Linked DNA regions of Homo sapiens: region 1 is linked to region 2. Evidence: fine-mapped expression QTL. Tissue or cell type: whole blood. Region 2 holds a variant in brackets; the other region holds the start of a gene. All regions are shown on one strand. Distances are between the middles of the regions.

The links. PIP is the estimated chance that this variant, and not a neighbour inherited with it, causes the effect.
Region 1: PLAU starts here. The variant in region 2 is fine-mapped to the expression of PLAU in whole blood (INTERVAL, PIP above 0.99).

Annotation. Positions count from the first base shown.
Region 1 is chr10:73,906,743-73,914,742 of GRCh38, forward strand. PLAU (plasminogen activator, urokinase) reads left to right here and starts at 4,390. Exons shown (of 11, transcript NM_002658.6): 1 at 4,390-4,476; 2 at 4,783-4,870; 3 at 5,299-5,326; 4 at 5,473-5,580; 5 at 6,182-6,356; 6 at 6,548-6,639; 7 at 6,797-7,016; 8 at 7,238-7,386. The coding sequence starts at 4,814. It overlaps C10orf55 (chromosome 10 putative open reading frame 55), which reads right to left. Exons shown (of 5, transcript NR_160938.1): 3 at 6,301-6,333; 4 at 5,458-5,542; 5 at 3,227-5,353. RefSeq lists enhancers at 1,866-3,065, 2,421-3,371, 2,621-2,670, 6,289-7,488, 7,099-7,652 and a silencer at 4,337-4,936.
Region 2 is chr10:74,391,329-74,399,589 of GRCh38, forward strand. ADK (adenosine kinase) reads left to right here. Exons shown (of 11, transcript NM_006721.4): 5 at 2,813-2,985; 6 at 7,143-7,251. Among named protein-coding and RNA genes, the nearest start is that of ADK-AS1, 130 kb to the right of the region's middle. The variant C/A (reference allele first, on the strand shown) is at 3,777.

The sequences.
Region 1 (8,000 bases), 480 kb before region 2:
AGGGACCAGCTTTAGTTCCCCTTTCATGGTGCTACTGACGACAGTGTAACCTCAGGGTTCAGCCCCTGGGCTCTTTGCTTTCCATGAGTAAGGAAGCAAGAATGCTGCCTCCCTCCACCCCTTCCACAGCCTGCTGGGGGCCTGCAGCTCCAGCAATCCCCCTATCATGTTACATGCCCAGAAGCGGCTTTCAGTGCCTGCCGTTGCCAGCTGGCTTCACCCTTCACACTAGACACTCAGGAAGAAGGGGTCCTTAGACTCAAGGAAGCTATGTGACCAGCATTCCGTACCTCCTTCCCAGAACTGTTGAAGAGTCCGTCTGCCCCATGTGTAGGAGGGAAAGAGGCGCTTCAGGCCACACAGGGACACAGACAAGAGGGAGAGGGAGTAAGCATAGGCAATGTGGGAGTGAACAGCACATGCAGCTGTGGGTCCAGCTGCCTGATTGCTGGGAACTGCTGGCCAAGGATACAGCATCCCCATTGGCCTGGAATCCTGGAATGGACTCCAGCCTGACTTGGTCTTCTGAGTCAATCCAGCCACAGTCAAAAAGGGGAGGCAGGCACTCGATGTAGGAATTACAGTTTACACAGTTCCTCTTCCTATCTCTAGCATCCAGAACTGCGCCCAGCACACAGTAGGTCCATGATAAATATGGAATGAATGAATACTTTTACATGCAAGCATGATCTCAGCCAATCTGCAGAGTGAGGCACAGGCTGGACAGGTGGATCACCTGAGGTCAGGGGTTCAAGACCAGCCTGGACAACATGGTGAAACCCCATCTCTACTAAAAATATAAAATTAGACCGGCATGGTGGCAGACACCTGTAATCCCAGCTACTTGGGAGGCTGAGGCAGGAGAATTGCTTGAACCCAGAAGGTGGAGGGTGCAGAGAGCCAAGATTGTACCATTGCACTCCAGCCTGGGTGACAAGAGCGAGACTCCACGTCAAAAAAAAAAAAAAAAAAAAAAAGAGTTAAGCAACTTGCCTAAGATCATTCAACTTTGATGTAGCAGACTGAAGGCTAGGCACTGTGGTCTTTCTATAGTGCCATGCTGAGCATTCTTCATATACAACACAGAATTGCATCCTATGACTCCATGGGAACTTCCTTTTGGGTCAGAAAATAGTCCTTAGGGGCTGAGTTTCCTGGACTTAGTCTCAGGGCCAGGTTTGGATACCCTGCCCCTCCCTGCGCATCTGGCATCTGCCTTCCCTTTTATGAGAATCTCCTGGAAAGGGCTTCTCCAGCAGTCTGTGTTGCCACATCTGACTCAGGAGCTCTGTACCCTTGAGACACAGAGGCAGGGGTTGGTGGCTTCACCCTAGGAGTCAGGAAAAGAATGAAATCATACACATTCAGTTCCTTATTCTCTTACCCTCAACAGAAATTTCAGACAGCCTAGACCACAGAGACAGTTCTTGGAATTCAGGCAAACAACTAATTTGTATTACAGCGGGTGCAACTTAAGAGCTCAGAGTCCATAGTCCGAGCAGTCTTTCTGGAAGGAGGTCTCCAAAGTCAGGAGGAGGGCTCCCCTGAGCTGGATCATCTTAGCTCACTGGCCCCTCCCTTCACAGCGTTCTGTCTTTTATGGAGACAGTGAGGTATAGCGCATAGGAACAAGGATCAGAAGACGCTGGGTTTTAGTGCTGGCTTTGCTGCTCATCAACTGTGTATCTTCTCTCCACTTCATTTTCCATATCTGCAAAATGGGAACAACAATACCAGTCTATATCATAAGGCAGTTATGAGTTTAAAGAGAAATGGTTTACATTAATGTGCCTTGAAGCACAAGACAGAAATACAATATAAAAAATATGGCTGGGGCCGGGCACGGTGGCTCACGCCTGTAATCCCAGCACTTTGGGAGGCCGAGGTGGGCGGATCACAAGGTCAGGAGATCGAGACCATCCTGGCTAACACGGTGAAACCCCATCTCTACTAAAAATACAAAAAATTAGCCGGGTGTGGTGGCAGGCGCCTGTAGTCCCAGCTAGTCGGTAGGCTGAGGCAGGAGAATGGCGTGAACCCGGGAGGCGGAGCTTGCAGTGAGCCGAGATTGTGCCACTGCACTCCAGCCTGGGTGACAGACCGAGACTCCGTCTCAAAAAAAAAAAAAAAAAAATATGGCTGGGCGTGGTGGCTCATGCCTGTAATCCCAGCACTTTGGAAGGATGAGGTGGGAGGACCCCTTGAACCCAGAAGCCCAGCAAAACCTTGTCTTTAAAAAAAAAAAAGAACTGTGCACAAAGATTTCAGAGAGTGCTAAAGATTAGCGCATGGATAAGGAAGTTCTGTGAAGAGTTGAAGTGCTAGGTGAAGAGGTGGCACGGGGGAGGAGGGGGCGGAAGGGGAGAAAGGGTGTCACGCTTCATAACGGTCTCCAAACCTCTTTGTCCAGGAGGAAATGAAGTCATCTGCTCTCAGCAATCAGCATGACAGCCTCCAGCCAAGTAATCTGGAGTCATGAGAGCTGCTAGGGGAGCAACATGAATCATGACGGTCCCTGGGAATTTCCTGATAACTAACCTGGGAGTTTCGGGGTAAGTCCTCAGGCTGCAGCATCTCTGTTTATGTTCTGGTCACGTTTATTTACAATTAATGGGTTCTCAAATCCAAACAAAACTGACCACAGTCTTCTAGAGGAAGTAGCAAGGTTGGCTCTGAAGCCTATAGCATCGCTGACTCAGTCTGTCCCCTGGAAGGCTGGCAGCTCAGCAAGCACAGAAGTCTCTCCAGAAGACAGTGGGTCACCTGCCTCCCAAAAGCTGAAAGGCTAACTTGTACTTTCCCCAGCAGGCAGCTGGCACCCTGAGCCCTCGGCTGGGGCAGAGCAAAGGAGCCTTCCTCCTTCCTACCTTCCTGGCACTCTCCCTGCCTTCCTTCTGTCACTCTCAGGTGGACCCAGACCCAAGGTCCAGATTTGCAAGGCAGGAAAATGCTGCAGGCCTAGGCTGGGAAAGGGCCCAAAGCCGCTAGTGGATTGCTGGGACTCAGCCTCCTCCTTCCCACTAAGAGAGCGAGTCCTACTGGGTTCAAAATGACCCCAAGCCCTGGTTCCTGACACTAGGGGAAAGAGATGGGGGTGACAGAATCACAGAATCCCTGCTATGTTCCTCCAAGTGTGCCCAGAGATGCGTGTGTGTGTGTGTGTGTATACACAAATGTCTGCTTATCCTCAGGCAGGAAGGGTGGATGCAGTCATTTACACATGGTCTGTTTTTCTGGAGGACAATTTTATTTGATAAACAATTGTTTCTATCTGAATAGAATAAACAAGGCTCTATGATGAAGTAAAACACTAAATACACATGCATTAAAAAATGCATAATTATCTTTTTGGAATGGGCTATACAGAGATGTGCTTTTTAAAATGTTAAGAGTGTAAAAGGACAAACAGTGAAAAATAAATCTTCCTCTTATTTTGTCCTCCAGTCTCCCAATTCCTCTACTCAGAGGTGAGAACAGAACTTCCACACCCTCCAGAACCTCCACAGTTAGAACTGTCTACATGTTTCCATTGTCTTTACTTTTATTCTTGCCTGCACAAATAAATGAATTGCTCATTATGGAAACTTCCCAAAAGACCCGTTAACACTTCAATAGGAAGCACCAACAGTTTATGCCCTAGGACTTTGTTCCCACAATCCTGTAACATCATATCACGACACCTAACCCAATCCTTATCAAGCCCTGTCAAAAACGGACTTTAAACCAAGCTGCAAATTTTCAGTAATCTGGCCTTGCCTTTCCCCCTCTGATAGCACCATCAAACAAACCCCCTTACTGCCGAAAGCAATAAGCCCGGCTTTGTTCCATCCACTGGTTGTGTTGGTGATATCTGGGGACTGCCACTGAACAGACGCACAGAGGGAGCCCCTACAGGCAGGGGTTTTTCTGTCTGTGCTTCTGGGAGAGTATGTCTCGTACATTTGTCGCGTTGATGAAGACTTCACAGCTCCATCAGCTGCGGGCAAGGGGGTCTGAGGCAGTCTTAGGCAAGTTGGGGCCCAGCGGGGAGAAGTTGCAGAAGAACTGATTAGAGGACCCCAGGAGGCTTCAGAGCTGGGCGAGGTAGAGAGTCTCCTGTGCGCCTTCTCTCCTCTCTGCAATTCGGGGACTCCTTGCACTGGGGCAGGCCCCCGGCCAGGTGCATGGGAGGAAGCACGGAGAATTTACAAGCCTCTCGATTCCTCAGTCCAGACGCTGTTGGGTCCCCTCCGCTGGAGATCGCGCTTCCCCCAAATCTTTGTGAGCGTTGCGGAAGCACGCGGGGTCCGGGTCGCTGAGCGCTGCAAGACAGGGGAGGGAGCCGGGCGGGAGAGGGAGGGGCGGCGCCGGGGCGGGCCCTGATATAGAGCAGGCGCCGCGGGTCGCAGCACAGTGCGGAGACCGCAGCCCCGGAGCCCGGGCCAGGGTCCACCTGTCCCCGCAGCGCCGGCTCGCGCCCTCCTGCCGCAGCCACCGGTGAGTGCCGCGGTCCTGAGATCCCCGGGCCGGATGCGCGGCGGCCCCAGCTCCCGAGCGTCTGCCTCCCCCGCCCTGGGCTGCCCGGGCTCCCTGGGCTCCCCGGCGGCTGCACGGAGTCAAGGCGCCCCGTCCCGGGCGTCCCCCGCGGGTGCCGATCCAGGCTGCCCGGAGTCCGGAGCCCAGAGAGGAGAGAGACAGCTGGGGAGCCTGGTCACCGCGGGCATCTCCCCTGCGCTGCAGTCGCCCGCCTGGCCTGCCTTCCCGTTCCTCCGCCTCTTGCCCTGACTTCTCCTTCCTTTGCAGAGCCGCCGTCTAGCGCCCCGACCTCGCCACCATGAGAGCCCTGCTGGCGCGCCTGCTTCTCTGCGTCCTGGTCGTGAGCGACTCCAAAGTGAGTGCGCTCTTGCTTTGACTGATGCTGCCCAAGGACCTCTGATCAGCACCAGGGGAGAGGAGGGGCTGCTCAGGGAGCTGGGGTCCTCCGGATTCCATCCACAGCAGGGCCAGACTCTCCCCAGGAAATGGGACAGGGTGGCAGCGGAGGCTTGAGAACCACGGGGGTTGGCACTGGCTGGCAAGGGAGGAAGAGGCCGCCGGGACTGCCCCAGCCTGCGGGCATCTGGTAGATGAAGCTTGCTTGGGTCAATCCATTTCTCCTGGCTGGAAACCCATGGTCTTCCATTTGAGAACTAGATACGAACAGGGTGAGGCGAGAGGGAGAGGGAAGAGTGGGTTTTGGGATTGGGGCCAGTTTACCCTCACCCTGGAGTCCCTGGAGCATGGGACCTTTGATGAAGCCTCCTCCCGAATCTCTTCCAGGGCAGCAATGAACTTCATCAAGTTCCATGTGAGTATCCACCCCTACAACAGTTGGCTGCACAGACAAGTTGGGAAGGCTTCAGGGGACATCCCCTCCCTGCCCTCTGCTGCAGGGCTGCGCCACCCCTTACCACTTCCACTCCCCCTCGCTTACCCCACCTTTGTTCTCTCCAGCGAACTGTGACTGTCTAAATGGAGGAACATGTGTGTCCAACAAGTACTTCTCCAACATTCACTGGTGCAACTGCCCAAAGAAATTCGGAGGGCAGCACTGTGAAATAGGTATGGGGATCTCCACTGCAACTGGGAGAGAAATTTGGGGACAGGGAGGGATGGGTGGGAGGCAAGAGCAGGCAGGAGTTAGGAGCTGGAGGTAGGGTGGGTGACATCTTCATCCCTATGTGACAAGCATAAACACACACACACGCTCACGAAACAGTGGCCACACAAATGTGAGGTGGGGTTGGAAGGAGACCCTGTCCAGTCTTCTGGCAGGTCTGAAACGACATCTTTAAAATGTCCGTTGGCAGCCGGGCATGGTGGCTCACGCTTGTAATCCCAGCATTTTGAGAGGTCAAGGTGAGTGGATCATTTGAGGTCAGGAGTTCAAGACCAGCCTGGACAACATGGTGTAACCCTGCCTCTACTAAAAATGCAAAAATCAGCCTGGCATGGTAGTGGATGCCTGTAGTCCCAGCTACTTGGGAGGCTGAGGCAGGAGAATTGCTTGAACCTGGGAGGCAGAGATCTCAGTGAGCTGAGATCACACCACTGCACTCCAACTGGGCGACAGAGCAAGACTCCATCTCAAAAAAAAAAAATAAAAGTTAGTTGGAATGTTCTTCTCTTTCTCATATTCTCTCATCCTCCTGTCCCCTTGTAGATAAGTCAAAAACCTGCTATGAGGGGAATGGTCACTTTTACCGAGGAAAGGCCAGCACTGACACCATGGGCCGGCCCTGCCTGCCCTGGAACTCTGCCACTGTCCTTCAGCAAACGTACCATGCCCACAGATCTGATGCTCTTCAGCTGGGCCTGGGGAAACATAATTACTGCAGGTGAGGTGGGGGCAACAAGGACCAAAAGCCCTCCCTACAGCTTCCCAGAAACCTTGTTACCATCCCCTTCTCCCAGAGGGCTGGCCATAGCACAAGAGAAGTGCGGCCTCTGGTTGAGTCTTCCCTGAGGGGAGGAGGCAGGGAAGGCCCTCTGGGTTGGAATGACATCCCCTATCTTTCTGTGTTGCCAGGAACCCAGACAACCGGAGGCGACCCTGGTGCTATGTGCAGGTGGGCCTAAAGCTGCTTGTCCAAGAGTGCATGGTGCATGACTGCGCAGATGGTGAGCATCACTGACCTGCTGATGACAGTGGGGTGGAAGGGGACAAACTTACATGTCCCCTTATTCCATCACAGGAGGACTGAGGAGGTGGGGGGTGCCCGAGAGGGATGCTTTCTCCTACCTGCCTCCCTAAGACATCCCTCTGTTTGTCCTCCAGGAAAAAAGCCCTCCTCTCCTCCAGAAGAATTAAAATTTCAGTGTGGCCAAAAGACTCTGAGGCCCCGCTTTAAGATTATTGGGGGAGAATTCACCACCATCGAGAACCAGCCCTGGTTTGCGGCCATCTACAGGAGGCACCGGGGGGGCTCTGTCACCTACGTGTGTGGAGGCAGCCTCATCAGCCCTTGCTGGGTGATCAGCGCCACACACTGCTTCATGTACGGCCCTGGGTTTCTCCTCTTCGACTCTTCTGCCCCACCCCAAGCACATCCCTTTCTCCTTCCCAGCAAAGTGTTCCGCCTCATTTCTCCCTCATCTGCCCCTGTCCATGCAGCCCATGGCCTTGGGGACAAGTCGTGCTTTGAGGCCTCTAGGGAGGGAAGGAAGAAGTGGCAGATTTCATGGGACTAAGCTGTTTGATGGGTATCTTCTCCCACAGTGATTACCCAAAGAAGGAGGACTACATCGTCTACCTGGGTCGCTCAAGGCTTAACTCCAACACGCAAGGGGAGATGAAGTTTGAGGTGGAAAACCTCATCCTACACAAGGACTACAGCGCTGACACGCTTGCTCACCACAACGACATTGGTGAGGGGGAACCCCGCGACTACTGTGGCCATAATGGCTTGGGGAGAGTGGGACCCAGGGAGAGACTGGAGCTGAGGTTGAAGCTGCCCGGTGGGGCAGGGGTGGGGCGAGGGACCTTGAAGCCTCGATATACATGACAAAGGGAGTGGCAGGGAAGAGTTCCATGAAGTCTGAGGGGCCTGGTGCTCCTCTGGAGAGACCCTGAATTTCCCCAACAAGTAGCCTCTTGCGAGTGGAAACAGCCCTGTGGGTATATGGCTTGGGCTGGGAAGGCCCTGTTTATATGAATTAGAAAAAGACACACCTTCCTTTGTGGGATGCAGCCTCTGTCTGTGCTAGGATATAGAACTTGGAGAATGGAGCCTTGGGATGGATTCCAGCCTAACTACCTCAGCTGGGAGTTTTTGCAGAAACGACCTGTACAGCTGTATGCAGTGGCTCTGGCCATCCAAGCCTTTTTCAACACCTGGAACAAAGCCCTTGGGGCATGGGGCAGGGGAGGTTTCCAGGTGATAAGCGACCAGCAGACCTCCCTGGATGACTGACCTAGGGATAGGCATAGCTACTTCCTCGGCACTTGGAGGGGACAGATGGGGACCGCCTAACCAGTAGTG
Region 2 (8,261 bases):
AATGCAAAATTTTAACATGTTTCAGAAGTCAAATTTGTATGGAATGCTATATTCAGAGAACTCTTCTATTCCTATTCCTCTACTCCTTTCCCACTCACTCTCATAGAAAAGCATTTTTCATTTCTAGTTTATTCTTTCTGTGTTTCTTTTTATAAAATTAGCAAACACAAAATTATATATACATTCTAATATATGTATATAGTATAGTATCTATACTAAAAGAATATATATGGTTGAGTGAGGTGGCTTGCACCTATAGTCCCAACTACTCAGAAGACTGAGCTGGGAGGATCTGTTGAATTCAGGAGTTCGAGGCAAGAATATACACACACACACACACACACACACACACACACACACACACACACATTCTCTTTTATGTAATAAAAACCATAACATTAACTCTACCATCTTAACCATTTTTAAATGTACCAATTAGTATACGCATGTTGTTACATAGTCAACCTCTAGAAATTTTTCATCTTGCAACACTGAAACTCTGTACCCATTAAACTCTTAATTCTCTGACTTCCCTCCCTGACGTCCTTGGCAACCAACATTCTACTTATGTTTCTATGATTTTGACTACTTCAGATACTTCCTATGAATGGAATCATACAATATGTGTCTTTTTTGTGACAGACCTTATATAACTTAGCAAGTTCTTGATGTTCATCTATGTTGTAGCATGTGACAGGATTTCCTTCTTTTGTTTCTTTATCCTTTAATTGTTGATAGATGTCTGGGTTGCTTGTACTTCTTGGCTATCATGAATATTGCTGCAGTGAACATGGACATGCAAATATATCTTTGAGATCCTGCTTTGAATTCTTTTGACTGTATACCCAGAAGTGAGGTTGCTTGATTATATGTTAATTTAATTTTTAATATTTCTTTCAGGAACTTCCATACCATTTTAGTAGTGGCTGTACCATGTTACATTTCCACCAACACTGCACAAGGGTTCATTCACTTCTCCACATTTTGCCAGCATTTTTTGTTTTCTGTGTTTTCGGTAGTAACCATCCTGATCAGTGTGAAGTGATATCTCATTGTGGTTTTGATTTCCCTGATGATTACTGATGTTGAACATCTTTTCTTGTGCTTATTGGCCATTTATATATCATTTTTGGAGAAATGTCTATTCAAGTCCTTTGCCCATTTTAAGATCATGTTATTTGTATTTTTATTGTTCATTTAGAAGTTTGTTATATATTCTGGATATTAACCTTTCATTGGATATATGGTTTGGAAATAAGTTGCCTTTTCACTCTGTTGATTGCCTCCTTTGCCATGCAGAAGTTAAGCTTGATATAATCACATTTATCTATTTTTGCTTTTGTTGCCTGTGCTTTTGTTCCATATTTATGAAATCATTGCTAAATCCAATGTCCTGAAGCTGTCCCCCATATTTGAAAATAATATATATTATTAAGTTTTATTTTTTAAACAAAGCTTTTTACCTTTGAGACTTGATTTTTTTTTGAAGTTAACAAAATATCCTGGAAATTACTTTGTATAGAAGGAGTGTTCCACAGAGCTTTTCCTTTTTTTGTGTTGTTTTGCTGGGATTTTTGAATGGCTGTGTGGTATTCCATTGTGTGGATATATCATAATTTAATCGACTGATCTTCTACAGGTGGACTTCTAGTTTATTTCCAACATTTTGCCATTACAAATAACATCTCAATACTTATATATGTGTTGTTTTATATTGTGGATGAGTCTGTAGAAGTGGGATTGCTGGTCATTAAGCTGTTACTATGTCTCATTCTTACAGTTCTGTCTTTGTTACTTTTTCCTCTCCTCATCCTTTTACCTCTCAAATATGCATGTATTTCTTTTCTATTCCAAATATTTGAGAACAGATTTTATCAAAATCTATTTTGATATCTTTTGACTTTGTATGTAGATTATTTGTAGGTTATTTTGCTACCTGTAAGTCTTTGAAACTAAACAGGTGTTACCTATAGAATCACTATAGAATATTAGAACCCTCAGGGATTTGAGCTAATTATAAAAGGTAAAAAGTTCAAATCTGTGAAACATATGCATCTTACAAGAAATCCATTAAAGCTTATAATAATTACTTCAATGAAAAAATGAGATATTTGTAACTAGAACTGTAACACTATTTCTGAATTTTTAAAAGAATTTTTTTAGATATGAGCATGTTTTAGCTTAATTTATATATGAATTACTACAATAAGTATGACAATCATAGTAACAGCCACAGCTAATATATGTTGTTGACTATGTGCTGGGTACCATGCTCAGCAATGCAAGTACATTAATTTACATCATTTCAATTAGTCCTCAACGACCTTATGAGATGTATTTGTAATTATATCTCCACTTTAAACATGAGTGAAATGAGAAATGTTAAGAGATATGCTCTAACATGCTCTAACTCATGCAGCTAGTAAGTGGCAGAAGCAAGATTTGAACCCAGAGAGTCTTCAATCAAGATGGATTCTGCTCTTTTTATGACAATGCTAGACTTCTTATATTGGGACCCACTATTATTTTCCTATATCAGGCCAGCATTTGTCTTAAGGTCTGTATGATTTTAGCTGCTGAGTCCTTAACAACTTTATGTACTTTATTTCTCTCCCCAAAGCAGTATAAGATATTACATGGTTGTTATATTAAGTTTTTTTAATCGTAAGTGATAGCACAGAATTGAAATCCCATTCATAACAGCTACAGTTTCTCACAAAGCATTCTTGTCACATCACTATCTGTGGCAGAATATTAAACTATGTGTACCATTTTTTTGCCCCATTAAATTATTTATGTTCCTGTTTTACAGTGGATGATTCAACAGCCACACAAAGCAGCAACATTTTTTGGATGCATTGGGATAGATAAATTTGGGGAGATCCTGAAGAGAAAAGCTGCTGAAGCCCATGTGGATGCTCATTACTACGAGCAGAATGAGCAGCCAACAGGAACTTGTGCTGCATGCATCACTGGTGACAACAGGTCAGTGTAATTCCAAGGGAACCACTATACTAATTGGCTATTTTAACACTGGTAAAATATGAATTCCAATGTGAATTTGGAATTTTGACTTTATAATTCCTTTTAATGTTTGATAAATGCTTATTCCTTATATCAGTTTTCCTGTATTGTTTTTAAATTTACTTTTGTTAAACATGCAGTTGAATTCATGAGGCATAATGGAATAAAAGTTTGAGGTTATTTAGTCCAGTCTCTACTTTTTATAATTAGAATCAGAAAAGGCTGATAGCTTGCTCAATGCCTTGTAGCTTGCTCAACACCTTGTAGCTAATTTGTTGCAAAACTTGAATTAGAAACAATGTTCTTTTCACCATATCCTGAGGTTGGAATACGAGAGAGAGAGACAGAGAGACAGAGAGAGAGTGTGTGTGTGTATTTTATGTATATAAAATACAACATTACATTCAGGCTCGTAAGACTTAGTCATCTAAATGGTCATCTAAACCATTTCTGGCAAATAGTAATTCATTCATATTGAATAAACTCAGTCGTGGGTAGTATACCACTAACAAAACAACCAAGTATATTTCTATACACCCTTACTTATTAGAAAAGTATTCTTAATATGAACTTGAAATATCTCTCTCAGGCCCCTCCATATATTGGTTGGTTGTTCTTTTGTACCCACATGGAGATACTCCTTCAGTGTATTCATGCACTGCTAACGTTATTACCATATCAGCACAGGCTTTTTTCCCCTTTGCAAGGGAAAAACAAAATAACTGCCCTAGCTATTATATTGTTGGGATAAT[C/A]AAAGATGACCTCTTTTTAAATAGTGATTCACTAGAAATTTTGCATTACTTATAGTTGGAAATATGTAGTCTGTCCTCCTCCATTCCCTATCTCCTTTCTTTTCCCATCTTCTCTTCCTTTCTTTTTTTCCCTTTTCATCCTCCTTTATTTTCTTCCCCCTCTCCACCACGACCTTGCTCCATTTCTTCTATTTACCCACTTTATTGCTCACTACTTGACCTTCAGCAGAGGTATATTAAGGAATGGACTATTCTAGAGACTGGGGATCAATAAGCACAGTATTTACTAAATAACCAAAATACAATATTCAAAAATTATTAGGGTATGAAAGGCATTTTCAGATCTTTCCTTTAATTTTGTTTTTTATATACAGGAGAACTTTATGGTTTTAAGATTACAGTAAACATTGAAATATGGGATTCAGGGATTTTAAAAAAAAACAACTAAAAATGTTGAAATATGTTTGTTTAGACCTTTGCCCTTAGTTTTCCCAAGACCAGCCTTAATCTGTAGGTGCAAAGTTTTCCCATTAGTGAGAAGTAGGTCAGATTTTCTTCTGATATCACTTAGGCTACAGTAAAATTACTAAATTGTTTTAGTATGCTAAATTGCTGTCCTAAAGAACAGTTATGGTTGGGTGCAGTGGCTCACGCCTGTAATCCCAGCACTTTGGGAGGCCGAGTCAGGTGGATCACCTGAGGTCAGGAGTTCGAGACCAGCCTGGCCAACATGGTGAAACTCCGTCTCTACTAAAAATGTAAAAATTAGCCAGGTGTGCACCTGTAATCCCAGCTACTCGGGAGACGAAAGTAGGAGAATTGCTTGAACCTAGGAGGTGGAGGTTGCAGTGAGCCGAGATTGTGCTATTGCGCTCCAGCCTGGGCAACAGAGCAAGATTCTGTCTCAAAACCAAAGAGAGAGAGAGAACAGTTATGATAATATTAGATCTTCTGGATGTCAAAAACTTAACTTTTATACTAATTTTATGGTTATAGTGATATTGTTGAGATGATATGGGACTCAAAAATTGGGGAGAAATCTTCAGTATCTAAATCATTATCTAAATTCTGGAAGCTAATACAGTTGGATCAATTGTTTTGGATAGGTCCAGTAACCTTTGCTGCCACTATCAAAAACTCAGAAATTGGCCGGGTGTGGTGGTCACACCTTGTAATCCTAACACTTTAGGAGACCGAAGTAGGCTGATCACTCGAGCTCAGGAGTTTAAGGCCAGCCTGGCCAACATGGCGAAACTCCATCTCTACAAAAAATACAAAAATTAGCTGGGGATGGTGGCATGTACCTGTGGTCCCCGCTGCTTGGGAGGCTGAGGTGGAAGGATTGCTTGAGCCCAGGAGGTTGAGGCTGCAGTGGACTGGGGTCGTGCTGCCCACTGCACTTCAGTCTGGGCAAAAGAGTGAGCCCCTGTCTAAAAAACAAAAAACAAAACAAAAAATTTCAGAAATTGAAGTGTTTGGGTAATGCAGTATCTTTCTTGATCCAGGTTCTTCCTCTTCAAAGTCAGAATCAAATACGTTGGGATAATAAGAATACTCATATTTTTCTGGTCGGGCATGGCAGCTCATGCCTGTAATCCCAGCACTTTGGGAGGCCGAGGCGGGTGGATCATTTGAGGCCAGGAGTTTGAGACCAGCCTGGCCAACATGGTGAAACTCCACCTCTACTAAAAATACAAAAAAATTAGCCGAGCATCATGGCGGGCACTTGTAATCCCAGCTACTTGGGAGACTGAGGCAAGGAAATTGCTTGAACCCGGAGGCGGAGGTTGCAGTGAGCCAAGACGGAGCCATTGCTCTTCTCTAGCCTGGGCAACAAGAACGAAACTTCATCTGGAAAAAAAAAAAAAAGAATACTTTTATTTTTCTTTTGGAGAAACTGTAGTTTCCCATCAAAAAGTAGTTTTATTATCAGAATAGAGTTTAGTATCTGGTACCAGAAATGTTTGCTTTTATTTGGTAGCCATTTTGTCAAAATTTTCCTAAAGTCATAATTACTAAAATATTTTTATAAATTAGGTCTAAATTTTCTTAAGTTTGTAATATAGTTATTTTGTATATGAATATGTTGATGCATATTACTCTTTCTTTCCTTCATTTACTTGAACATAAACAGATGTATCCTTTAGTAGTAAATTGGCAGATGGATGAGTGGAAATACGTTTTGGAAGAGAATTGAGGTTTTTTTTTTTAACAGTGTAATCGAACATATTACCAAAGTCTGAAATGATAAGATTTTTTTTGTAAGCTATAACTGTTACAATTTAATTAGAAAAAGAGAAAAATTGGCAAGTAATTTTTTAAATTCTGGAGCAGTATGAGGAAGGAAAGTATTTTTATTTATAATGTAAATAATTATTGTATTTATTTTTAATTAAACAAGCCAAGTGACACTTGTAGCAGGATTTTATTTATTTATTTATTTATTTTTTAGAGATGTGGTTTTGCCTTGTTGCCTAGGCTGGAGTGCAGTGGCATGATCATAGCTCATTGCAGCCTCAAACTCCTGGGCTCAAGCAATCCTCCCACCTCAGCTTCCTGAGTCCCTAGGACTATAAGTGTGCACCACTACCCCCAGCTAATTTTTAAAATTATTTTGTAGAGATGGGATCTGGCTGTGTTGCCCAGGCTGACCTCAAACTCCTGGCATCAAGCAATCCTCCCACCTTGGCCTCTGAAAGAGCTGGGATTTCAGCTTTGAGCTACTGCACCCAACCTGCAGCAAGATTTTAAATGCAGTATCCTGCTTAGATATTCCATTTCTAAAATTGGACCAGTCAGGGGACTTTTCAACTATAGAAAACAATTCTAATTGATTTCAGCCCTTAGAATGTAATGGTTTACAAATTAATTCCTCTTAGCGAATATGGTCTACATTTATAAGTGTCTTTTACGAAATTAATTCCATATTTGGCTTTTAAAGGCTTCGATTAAATAGACAATTATAGTATGTTGATATTTATTTTTATAAAGATATTTTTCTACTTAAAAAATGTTTTTAGTTGCATAGATTTCTTTTTATATAATGAGTTAGCCTTATTTCTTAACTGCATTTTGAACTATTAAGGTGTAAAAAGTAGGTCCTATTTTACTATCAAAAGGCAACTTAAATGCCAATTTCTTTCTCAAAATACCAGGTGTTGTTTAGAACAAAAATTATCATAGATGCCTCAGAAAGTTCTCAAAACAAAATTATTATTTATATTTATTTAAAAATCAATAACATTAGTTTTGAAGAATTAATTAAAATGTAAATTTTAAACTTTGCAAAAAATATTGGTAATTATCTATTGAAACATATGCTAAGTTTGACTATAATATTACTTGCTTATTCTTTGGTTGTTTTAGGTCCCTCATAGCTAATCTTGCTGCTGCCAATTGTTATAAAAAGGAAAAACATCTTGATCTGGAGAAAAACTGGATGTTGGTAGAAAAAGCAAGAGTTTGTTATATAGCAGTAAGTACTTACCTAATTCAAATCTCTAGTACATATTTACATGATGGATTATAGTTGTTGTCTGATATATATTTTAAAATAATTATCTTTTATTTACCCTGCAAATTATTTATCTCTCTCAAAGCATATGTTAGATTCACTATTGTGAAAATAGAACAGAAATCATTATCTTTCTATGGGTAACATAATTTGTATTATTTATCTTCAGGTCTACCTATTTTTGGATACATTATGCATAGGTGCTTGCCAACCAAGCGCAGAATTCTATATTAAATCAGTTTCCAAATATATTTTAAAATAATTCTACAAACTTACATCTTACATTTGTAGGCAACTTGCATTGTGCAGAAAAATATTAGTAGTATAAATATTCACTGCAAATAGTTTGAGCTGAATTGCTTAAAAAACTTAATTGCTATTTATTCCATAGTAATTACCATGACACCTCTTAATTTAATATTTCAGAAACATTGATCGTGACAAATCTCTTAAATCTGGGAACAAGGGCAGGGTGTAATTTGAATTATTAAGTCTTCTGACACAAAAATAATTGGTTAAGAATTTATTTCTAAAATAGGATGGTACTAAAAATTCTGAATTAATCACCCCATGATTACCTTGTTTTTATTTAATATGTGTTAAATGTGGCTTTACACAAATAAGTAGATACCTATGAAAAAAGCATCTCGTATGCATGTAATATATGGTTTTGGTATAACAGCTGCTGCCATTTCATTACCTGAGCTCTGTGAAATAGCTGGTAAGATGTGTAAAAAATTGATTACCCTACTAGGAGGAACATGTTTATTGAAAATATAATTATTTCTTTCAGTCTAATGTTAATGTCTCCTACAGCATGTTTGTGTGCACTGTTCTAGGCTTTACAACATTGTTATTGATTCCTCTGTATACCAAATCCTATCCCTTTATAACTGTCAAATAAATGCTTACATTGAGAAGATTATATAATGGAAAGTTATGCTATCTTTTCTGCCAGTATGTGAGAAAAA